Homo sapiens: one gene and its partner. The protein of the gene in region 1 purifies or fractionates together with the protein of each later gene. This does not show direct contact. Each region holds a gene or a part of one and is shown on either strand. Other genes may lie near its edges. The genes, in order: NUBP2 and QPCT.

Region 1 (4,018 bases):
AGGGGCATGGCCTCAGCGGTGGCGCCGGGGTGAGAATGCAGGGGTTTTGCCAAGGTATCTGCACACAGCAGCCCCTGCCGTGTGGCAGGGACAGGATGGGACCCTGGAAGGAAGAGGAGCTGGAGCTGTGCTGGAAGCAGCCGGCTCCCCTCACTTACCGCACATTGCAGGGACCGAGAGCCGGGGACGCTGGTGTGTGACAACGCGTGGTTGTTGCCACCCACCCTGGGCCCTCTGCTGCCTCTGCCGAGCCCAGGTGCACTGGCTGGGGAAAGAGTGGAGTCTGGTTCCCGTTAGAAATAGCAGGGGGCTGGCAGTTTCATGATCATGTGACCCACGTGTGTGTTTGCACACGCGCACGAAGGAACGCATGCACCCTTCCACACAGCGAGAGGAGTTGGGCAGTTTCCACTCTCAGCAGCGCCGCCTCAGGCAGGTGCAGGGAGTGCCGTGGTCTTAGAGGGTCCCCCCGGGTCTGGGGCTGCAGGGGACCTGCCTGGAGGTCTTTACATCGGGGCGAAGTGGGGCACGGGCTGCCTCTGGGTCTGGCGATTCACCACTGCCCCGCTCAGAACGTGGGTGCAAGAGGCAGTGGGTGACCCCGCGTGTGTGGGCACAGTGGGCACCAGGAGCCCTGACCTTCTCTGTCGTGTTTCCGCCCAGAGCCTGGAAACCTGGCCGGCGTCAGGCACATCATCCTGGTCCTCTCAGGAAAGGGGGGCGTTGGGAAAAGCACCATCTCCACGGAGCTGGCCCTGGCACTGCGCCATGCAGGCAAGAAGGTGAGCGCCCTACCCCTCACTGGGCGGAGCCCCGGGCAGCTGCCCGCATCCCGGTGGAGGCCTGGCGGTGCCCCCGGCCTAGGCTGTGCCGCTCCTTGCAGGTGGGAATCCTGGATGTGGACCTGTGTGGCCCCAGTATCCCCCGCATGCTCGGGGCGCAGGGCAGGGCTGTGCACCAGTGCGACCGCGGCTGGGCACCCGTCTTCCTGGACCGGGAGCAGAGCATCTCGCTCATGTCTGTGGGCTTCCTGCTGGAGAAGCCGGACGAGGCCGTGGTGTGGAGAGGCCCCAAGAAAAACGGTAACGGCCGGGCGGCGCGTCCGCCGTCCTGGTGAAGGGGGTTAGCGTCCGTGCCGGCCTCTCCTGTGGAAATGTTCCTCTTCAGCAGCCAGGCCTGTTCCTGGGGACCTGCACATGACACCCACGACCAGGCACAGGGCTCAGGCTGGCGGTGTGTCTCCAGTTGGGTCCGTGCTGCCACACAGCTGTCCCCAACTCCCGGTCAGAGGGAGTGGGGTCTGCTGAGACCCTGGCCATGGCATGCAGGGACCTGAGGCCCCAGTGTGGCAGGTCATAGGGGCAGAGCTGAGGGGGTTCTGGTGCCTCTGGAGCAGGTGGCATTAGACGCCCCCAAAGGCAGGGAGAGGCTGGTGGGAGTGAGGCGCAGGCTGTGGGTGCACCAGTGGGGCATCCACCACGGAGAATGTGGGTGCTCCCATGTGTGGGTACAGACGCCTGGAGGGTCCTGGCTCCGTGTTCTGATTTGGGGCCTCGGGGAGTCAGCGGGGGCTCTGTGGGCAGGGGCCAGACACTGCAGAAAGGGACGCTGTAATGGCCCCGGCCCCATCTTTGCACTCCTGCAGCGGGCCAGGGCCTCCCGAGAGCCTGTGATGGAGGCTGGTGGCAAGTGACACCTGATGGACTGCAGCCCCTCGGCCTGACCTGGCTGGTTCTTAGTGGCGCAGGGCCACGTGTGCAGACCTGCCCTGCCCTGACCGCCCCGTCTGCCCCGTCTTTGCAGCGCTGATAAAGCAGTTTGTGTCCGACGTGGCCTGGGGGGAGCTGGACTACCTGGTGGTGGACACGCCCCCGGGGACCTCCGATGAGCACATGGCCACCATAGAAGCCCTGCGTCCCTACCAGCCCCTGGGGGCCCTCGTGGTCACCACGCCCCAGGTAGCGCTGCGGCACCTTCCCGAGTCCCTGTGGGTGGCTTCCCAGAGGGCTGGGCGGGTGTCCCTGCTGGTGCGCCTGGCTGACCGTGGCCTCGGCTCCTGCCCCGCAGGCGGTGTCCGTGGGGGACGTGAGGCGCGAGCTGACCTTCTGTAGGAAGACGGGCTTGCGGGTGATGGGAATCGTGGAGAATATGAGCGGCTTCACCTGCCCACACTGCACGGTGAGTCCCGGGGGTTGCAGAGGGGGCGAGGCAGCACCTGGCCGGTGGGGGCTTTGGGCAGTGCTGGGCTCACCACCGTCTCCTAGGAGTGCACCAGCGTCTTCTCCAGGGGCGGCGGAGAGGAGCTGGCCCAGCTCGCCGGGGTGCCCTTCTTAGGTGAGTGTCCCAAGCTGGTGCTGGGGTCGCGGCCTCCCATTCCATCTCTGCCCTGGGCGGGTTTGACCTCCATGCCCCCAGTGCCCAAGGGAGAGGAGGGGACGGGAGCGGTTTCCTCCTCTCTTCTCGGGCCACACGCCATGCCGCTGAGACCTGCAGGTCATTCGCCCGCGCCCTTCTCAGGGCCCTCTCGGGTGGCAGGACCCAGCCTGCTGGGAGGGCCGCGGGTCTGGAGGTGGAAATCGTCTGGCAGCGCCTCAATCCCCTCTAAGGCCACGGGTGGTTCGGGTGCGTCCAGCTGAGCCAATGGTGGGAGTGGAAGGTGCGGACATGGCGCCACCGCCTCCACTGTGCCCTGCAGGCTCCGTGCCCCTGGACCCTGCGCTCATGAGGACCCTGGAGGAGGGCCACGACTTCATCCAGGAGTTCCCTGGGAGCCCCGCCTTCGCTGCACTCACCTCCATAGCCCAGAAGATTCTGGACGCGACGCCCGCGTGCCTCCCCTGACTAAGGCCACCTTGCAGCCGCTTTCCAGGGCCACCAAGGGCTCTGCTCCAGCCTCTCAGAGAAACAGAGGCCTGGGCTCGGTTCCCGGGCCCTGCAGGGGCAGGCCCAGGCAGCGTCAGCCGGAGAGCTTCTCCCCGACCAGCCCAGCCCCAGGATGTGTCGCACCAGCAGCTCTGCCTGGTTGGCCTGCAGTGCCGTGGTCTGCGTGCTCTGCAGCTGTGAGACGGGGGCGGCCTGGGCTCTCTTCCCATCCATGTTGCCTACCTGTGCCCCTGGCAGCCGCGTGTCCACACAGTTAGCGGAGCGCGGGACTTCTGCAGTCCTCAGGTGACCCCGGGCCTCCAGCACCCTGGGTCGCTGTCATCTGTGTTTAGCTCGGGGAGTGCCCCCTAAGGGGGCGAACTGACCTCAGGCATGTTTTGTAACTGTAGAGGCGCCTGCCATTAAACGTGTCCGCTGCTGTGGCGACAGATCTGATGTTTCTAGAGTCTTCTGTCCTTCGGGGTCAGACAGCACCTGCTTCTGTAAGTTTCTGGGCTGGACTGGGCCAGGCCGGCAGGTTCGTTCGTTCCGTTGTCAACAAGCCCCTGGGCCCAGGTGCTGATGTGTTTGCATCTTATTTGGTGGGAATTCGGGGAGATTTTGTGATAAACCTGACAGCTGGCCCCTTCGCCGTGGAAGAATGGCCTCCCTGGGACACTAAAGGGGCCCCTCCCGGGACAGAGACCAGAAGTCAGGTTGAGAAGGGAGCTCCAATCCCAGGGGTCCCCTGCACCTCTTCCCAGTGAGACCCGAAAGGAAAGCCCTTCCAGAAAGCAGAACGCGCCATTTTTCCCAAAGGAAGAGCTCAGCCTTCAGCAGGGGAGGACCCTGGAGGTGGGGGCCCGGAACCAACCCGGGCGGCCTCTGGGTGGGTGAGAGGGCACCAGGAGCACCTGGGCTGACGATGCCGGTGCCTGGGGGGGGCAGAGACAAACGCCCACGGCATCTGCAGGGGGTGCGGCTTCCCACGCAAGGCGGACGGCCCGCCCCGCGCTCCCTCCTCACCCCACCTCAGCCGCGCCCTGGCTGCCTGGACCACACCCCTCGGGGACACTGCCTGGTCCTCAGGGCGATCCCTCAAAGAGGAGGGGTGAGACGCAGAGCCCCTGGGGATTCGAGTTGGTGCCATCATTCC
Region 2 (7,291 bases), on another chromosome or scaffold:
AGCTCCACTTCTCTCCAGTAATAGGACTGTCATTACACATCCACATCCTTTGCCTGGTAACTTTGCTGTGCCCTCCCACTGTAGCCAGTTGTACTTCCTCATCCCTTCACTCTGGACTTCATTATTTGACTTGCCTTAGCCAATGGGATGTTAGTAGAGGTGACACAAACAGGGGCTGGAAGTGTGCTTGTGCCATTGGGCTTGCTCTTCCGTGTCTTTGCCATAACCATGAGAATGGCATGCCCTGGCTAGCCTGCCAGTCCCAGCAGAAGGATGAGACACCTGGAGCAGAACCAACCTTGCTGACTGCACAGTGAAGCAGAGCTGCCCCAGCCAAACCCATTCTAGATCAGCTGCTCCCTAGCTGACCAGCAGAGGTTATGTATCCCAAGAAGATACATAATGGTATTTTAAGCCACTGTGTTGATGGGGTGTTATTCTATTCTATTATTGCAACATTAGCTAACTGATACAGCCTTGAATGGGGAAGGACTGCAGATAACCCAGACTGTGTGAACGCTGGTAATTAGGCATTTGTAGTGTTACCATGAAGACCTTCATACATCAGGCCAGTCAGATTCTCCTAGCTCCAAGGTACTAGGCTGAGTTACTAGTAACGAAGGCCATGGCTATTTTTCTGCCATTCCTGAAATGAAGCAAAAAGAGCAGGTTGCCTCATGGGACTCAGGATGAATGTCCACAACAGTTTATTGCTGGCTAAATGAATGGATATTAGGCGAACAGAATGAAAGCAAATCGTTGTACTGATCATTGGAGTCTCCCAGCTGTTGAAGTTTCACTGAGGTACTTGAACTGTCAAGCCTGCAAGAGATAAAAACTATTTCCGTTTGCCTATGCCCTGGGCATGAGCAGAATGCCTCTTGTCCCAACCGGTCCCGTTCTGCCCTCTTGTTCTGCGATTATGTTGTCTGATTTGAAGCTAGAACTTTCAAGGCCCTTTAAACAACTGGAAGCTTAGAATGTCTCTACTGAAGCAAGCACCTTACAATTTTTGCCAACGAGAAAATCTGTTTAATTATTTAATGCTTATTAAACCCTGAGTGCATTTATATTGCACAAACACATCCTCTGCTTAATGCTCTCCAGGAGTTATGGAGGATTCAAATCAAATTACACTGTCCTTTCCTCATGGTATAATTAAGGAGCAATATGAAATGATTAGCGTACAAAATTAAGTTAGTTTTCAGATGATAAAGACAATTTTTTTCTCTTTTGAAATCACCGTTAAAACAATCAGGGAAACTCCATTTTTTGAAGAAAGTAGAGAACATCTGTGAATAGGAACCACAATATGAAGACAGAAGTTGGATGGAGAAATGGCAGATGACATATCAGAGTGGAGAGAAGTCACACTGTCCTGGAGAGGGAAGAAATGGAAGAAGCCAGTGGTTTCCTTGATAGAATCCTAAAAAGGCTCAGGAATTAGAGATGTGATAAGCTGAGGAAGGCAGAGGTGAGGAAGGGGCTGGTGTGGAGAGTGTTTCTAAGTCTGTCTAAGGAATATGTGGATGTAGAGATTCCCACCCCACACCAGGCAGGTAAGTGAGTGCCCCCTTGTGCCTTTGCCACAGATGAGAAAATATTTTTCTGGAGAAATTGAACCAGGGAGGTTATGGAATTGAGAATAGCAAGTATACAGGAGGGTGACAGTGGGGCACCCCATGGAAATCGGGGAGATTAGGCGAAAGCCTACACATTGAACAGTGAGATCTATAGTTTCTCTCCCATCTTCAGCACCAGAAAGCCATCAGATAGGAAACTGGAGGATTCTTCTTCAGACCGTGTGAACCACCCCGCAGAAAAATCCCAGATGGTGACATTCAGTAATCCTCAGTGAAAACACTGGCTGGGCACCAGATTGCCTTGCAGTGAAGCCAACCAATCTGTGTCTCCAACCAGCATTTTAATATCTTATTCTTTAACATGAATGAACACAAAGGATGACCAGACATTTGAGGACAGACTCCAGCATGAAAGAAAGGGCCTGGAGCAGTGGCTCATGTCTGTAATCCTAGCACTTTGGGAGGCCGAGGTGGGAGGATTGCTTGAGGCCAAGAGTTTGAGACCAGCCTGGGCAACATAGTGAGGCTCCCTCTCTACAAAAAAAAAAAAAAAAAAAAAATTAGCTGGTTATGGTGGTACACACCTGTAATCCTAGCTACTTGGGAGGCTGAGGCAGGAGGATTGCTTGAGCCCAGGAGTTCAAGGCTGCAATGCACTATAATTGAGCCACTGCACTCCAGCCTGGGCAACAGAGTGAGACCCTGTCTCTTAAATAAATAAATACTTTTTTAAAATGTAAAAAAAAAAAAAAAAAAAAATAGAAAGCAAAACAAATCATACAAATTTAAAATGAAGTGGGAGGAAATAGAGCAGAAAATGACTTAAAGGACACTGTTCTAATATTCTTACAGAGATAAGAGGAGACATTATATCTATGAAACAAAACCAGAATGCTGCAATAACAGAACAATTGGTCAATAAGGAGGAGCTTTTGGAAATTAAAATTTCTATTTTCAAAATAAATAAATCAATAAAACAGTTGGATCCTAAAGTAGAAGAAGTATCTTTTTTTAGAAGAGGAATGACAAAAAGGAGACGATTATGACTTTTGGAGAATAATTGTAACAATTCCAGTTAGGTCATATAAAAAGTATTGGGAATGAGAATGGCACTGGACTTCTCAATAGAAACTTTGGGAGCTAGAAAACAATGAAATTATGCCTTAAATATTTTAAATAAAAATAATTTGCAACCCAGAATCTTCAGACCCAGAAAAATTAAATAGGAAAATAGAATGAAGACATTTTCAGAGGTAAATCTCAACAATTTTCACTCCCATGTACTGTATTTTTGCCCTAGAAGTTGCTTAAAGCTGTGCTCCAGAAAAATCAAGAAAGAAATCAAGGATGAGGGAGTCATGGAGTTCAGCTCACTGGGGGTCCCATATAGGAGAGGCAGAAATCTGCAGGTTGATGGTGAGGGGAGCCCCAAGATAACAAACAGATAGGCAGCAGGCCTAGTGGTCGGTCCAGGCTGGAGCAGGCAGCAGAGGGCTCCGGAAGGGCCCATTCTTAAAAAACAAAACCAGACAGACATGAGAAATAAAGGTGTGATAGTGTCTGGAACGCTTGACCACATAATGGTGAAGACATATTAGGCTCAAAGAAAACAAAGCAAATGAAAGAGAGGCCTGTGGTGAGGAATGGTGGGAAACAGGTTTGCAGAGGCAGGACGAACTGGATTGCGATGTTTGTGTACATGGAAAAGGACAGAAAGAGACAGATCCCCACTGGTTTTTGGTCTGAGTAACTGCAAGGGGGGTTTTGCCATCCATTTGGTTGAAGAGACTGTTGGTAATACAGATTTCCGGGGGAACCTCAGGAGATGAGTTTTGACACTTTGTTCGAGGTGTCTATTAACGTCTATGTGGAGATCTTCATTTGGCAACTGAAATTGTAGTCTGGAGATCGGCAGTGAAGTCAGGGCTGGAGATATATTTTTTGGAATTGATATTTACATGTATGTGTGTGTTGTGTTGTGTGTGTGTATTATTATAATATAATACAATATAATATAACATATAATATGTATATATAGAGAGACCAGCCTGGGCAACATACTAAGGCTCCGCCTCTACAATATTATTATTATTATTATTATTTTAAAATAATTATATTAAAAATTTTATATATATAACAATACACACACAACACAGCACACACACACACACACACAAGACAACACACACATACCCACACATATATGATTTAAAGCCTCAAGAAGAGATATCAAGACAGTGAGTGAGTGTGGACAGAGAAGAGAAGAGAACCATGGAGCAAGCCCCTGAGGCTCTCTAGTGTGAAGAGGGAAGGGAGATGAAGGGAGCCATTAGTGCTAAGGTAGGAGGAATATGGTATCTTAGGAACCAAATGAAGCAAGTGTAGCCAGGAGGGAGTAATTAACTGTGTTGAATGCTGACAATAAGTCAAGAGAGATGAAGACTGAGAGTTGACCACTGGATGTAGCCATGTAGAGTCATTGGTGTCTTGACAAGAGCAGTTTCAGTACACGGTGGAGATAAAACCCAACTGGGCTAAGTTTAAGAAGTGGGATTGGAGACAGCGTGAATAGACAACTCCTTCAAGGGGTTTTGCTATAAATGGGATTACAAAATTGGGCAGTAGATGGTGGAGATAGTGAGGTCAAATATTTTAAGATGAGAAAAGCAACAGCATGTTTGTTGGCCGATGGGAATTATCCAGCAGAGATAGAAAAATTGATGATGTAGGAGAGAAATGGTATTTGCTAGAGCAATGTCCTTGAGCAGATGAGAGAGGATAGGATTTTGTGCATAAGCAGGGAGACTGGCATCTGATATGAGCATGACAGAAAGAAATCAAGGTCATCGGTTGGGAATGAAGATGGGTGAGGTGGCAGGGAGAGGAGGAATGTGAAATCCTAGAAGAGTGCCAGAGTGACTGAACTAAGAAAATACAAATGACTTGCCAGTCAACATGAAAGGCCAATGTGAGGTTTGTGGTCATGAACTTTAAGCAAGGCCAGACAGTGTGGTTATATATTTTTTTCTCTGGTGAGGTTTAGCTGCACGAGTGCTGGCACAAAGTAGGTAGAGTATGTTTTTGCCATGAAAGTTTGACAAAGGCAGAAAGGGGCAAGGGAGTTGAGGGTGTATGCTAGTGAGTGATTGGCATGATTGACTGGAATTTAAGCCAAATATAGAGTGAAGTGAGGACATTATGGGGGTGAAGGACCATGAAAAGGTGAAACATTCAGTAGATTAGGGGTTCCAGTGGGATTGAAGGACTTTGGAGTTTAGAGTACCAGGACCAATCTGAAAGACAGGGGTTATTGTCAGACGGAGGAAAGTGTAAAATCAGTTAGAATCCTAGTCACTCTTTTTAGTTCCATTCAAATACTGTCTTTTTCATAAAGCCCTCCTTGACACCCCCAGGATTTTGCTTCTCATTCTATCCAATTTCTAGAGGACTTTAATGTTACATTTGTGGCTGGTGGCACATTTTGCCATGCTTATGTATTTGTTTTATCTCTCCCCAACCCAACTAAAGTATAGGCTATTTCAAGGGAAGGGCTATAATTATTATTCTTCGTGTCTGTAGCATTCCTAGGGCAGACTCTTGAAGCTAGACTCAGTACAAAATTGAAGATGTAAATAAGGTGAGAAGCAAGAAAGATTTACAGTTGTTTCAGGTTGGATTCCCCAAGAAGCGCCCTCTGACATGGAGTTTAGTATTCAGGTCACTTATTAGGGAGTGGCCTTGGATCAACACAGGTATCAGGGAGGGGAAAGAAATGGTGTTGGACGGAGGAAGAAGTCGAGCTGCAGTGCAGGTTCAACAACGGCCTCAGCCAACCCCTGCGGAGCTCTGGAGATATGATGGCTCTTTAGAGAGCCCCCCGTACCCGTGTAGGTCAGCACTGGATGTGGGACACTCCCAGGAGGTGCAGCTGAGGCAATTCCTAAAGTGACTGACGGCTCTTCCAGCAGCTGAGGCAACACACCCTCCTGTATGGGAAGTGGGTGGTGTATCACACGATTCATCACAGCACTTTCATTGTTTCAAAATTCTGTGAGGAGTAAGAAAAAATATAAAAGACTTCTATTTTCAGAGGGAATGGAAGAAGGTGGTTTATATGGGTGAAGACTGTGGGAGGTGTGATGACTTTTGAAGAGGAAGTGGTGTGGAATAAATTTTGCCATAGTTTCACTTGCTTTGGTATCTTCCTTTCTTTATGGCACATCTATCTTTTTGCCCAATTAATAGAAAATCATGCTATTTTTCATCATCACAGTATTTTTTTGCTATGTTTTTATTGTTGTTTTTACCAGACTGTTTCAGACTCCAAGCCAGATTTGTCACTCCAGCTGATCTTCTTTGATGGTGAAGAGGCTTTTCTTCACTGGTCTCCTCAAGATTCTCTCTATGGGTCTCGACACTTAGCTGCAAAGATGGCATCGACCCCGCACCCACCTGGAGCGAGAGGCACCAGCCAACTGCATGGCATGGTTAGTCTGGGCAATTTCCCTAGCACTGTAGCTGTAGGCTCCGCTTCCAAGGAAAAGGTTGCAAAAGCCAAGTAAAGACCTAAAAATGCCACAGCATCCTTGGAGCACAGTGTTTATGATAGAACATTCCTTGGCAGGCATTGGGTTTTTGAGGAATCCCAGAGCTAAAAAGAATGATTCTGAGCTGGCTCTGTGGCTCATACCTGTAATCCCAGCATTTTGGGAGGTTGAGGTGGGAGGATCACTTGAGCCCAGGAGTTCGAGACCAGACTGGGCAACATAAGGGGACTTCGTCTCTACAACAAATAAAATAATTAGCTGGGTGTTGTGTATGCCTGTAATCTTAGCTACTCAAGAGGCTAAGGCAGGAGGATTGTTTGAGCCCAGGAGTTCGAGGCTGCCGTGAGCTATGATTGCTCCATTGCACTCCAGCCTGGGTGACAGAGGGAGACTCTGTTAAAAAAGAAAGAAAGAAAGAAAAATTGCTGGTTAGAAGCCATGTTTGACTGAGCTTAATTAAAATGATAAAATCATGTAAAAAATTGGATTACAGGAACTTCAGATTCAGTTGGGCCCAATGGGAGCACATTCCCCCAGTACTGTATGGAGGTGGAGAGAGCAAACCCCTTCTTTCAGGCCTTTATAAGTCTGAAGAACATGGGGCTTTGGGAAATGGAATAAAAGAGGGGTGAGGGTGAAGAATTTCCTTGGTGGCTTCAAAGTATTACCGTGACTCCAGTGTGACTATGACAGTTTGATGTGTTGGTTTTGATGTGGCATTTTTGACATGGGGGTGGGGATATTTTGATGCTGCCTTAAAACCCTGCTATTATTACTAAGTAATGAGTGCAACACACAGCCTCATTTTCATCCCCATTCCTGGGCCCACACTCCATCCCTAATCCCTCCCCCGACCCCTGCATCTTCTCCTGACTCTGACTCTCTTCCCATATTTGATCTTCTTTCTGTCCCCACGTCTTCACTAACCCCAGCTTGGAACCTCATGCTACCCTTGAGACTTCACTAGCCCCGGTGCCTTCATCCCTCCCTGACGCTCACCCCATCTGTGAACTGATAGCTTATTCCCAGCACCCCCGCTTATTCCTATCCATTGCCCTATCACTGACCTTCGCCCTATAAAAGTACAAATGGTCACATTCTGTGTCCTCTGTGACCCTAACACACCTCCTGTTGGCATTTGCTCTCCCTCCTGTTATCCAT

What was found.
Region 2: the proteins of NUBP2 (region 1) and QPCT purify together in Homo sapiens (affinity purification with mass spectrometry; 3 studies listed by BioGRID and IntAct, with this or other methods). This does not show direct contact.

What each region holds. Positions count from the first base shown.
Region 1 is NC_000016.10:1,785,874-1,789,891, forward strand, and holds the end of NUBP2 (cytosolic Fe-S cluster assembly factor NUBP2), read left to right. Parts: coding exon of another isoform or gene 1-29; intron 30-663; coding exon 664-782; intron 783-883; coding exon 884-1,082; intron 1,083-1,803; coding exon 1,804-1,958; intron 1,959-2,067; coding exon 2,068-2,178; intron 2,179-2,264; coding exon 2,265-2,334; intron 2,335-2,695; coding exon 2,696-2,841; coding exon of another isoform or gene 2,842-3,140; 3' UTR 3,141-3,313; downstream 3,314-4,018. UniProt on the Homo sapiens protein: Component of the cytosolic iron-sulfur (Fe/S) protein assembly (CIA) machinery. Required for maturation of extramitochondrial Fe-S proteins.
Region 2 is NC_000002.12:37,361,339-37,368,629, forward strand, and holds part of QPCT (glutaminyl-peptide cyclotransferase precursor), read left to right. Parts: intron 1-5,893; coding exon 5,894-6,070; intron 6,071-7,291. UniProt on the Homo sapiens protein: Responsible for the biosynthesis of pyroglutamyl peptides. Has a bias against acidic and tryptophan residues adjacent to the N-terminal glutaminyl residue and a lack of importance of chain length after the second residue.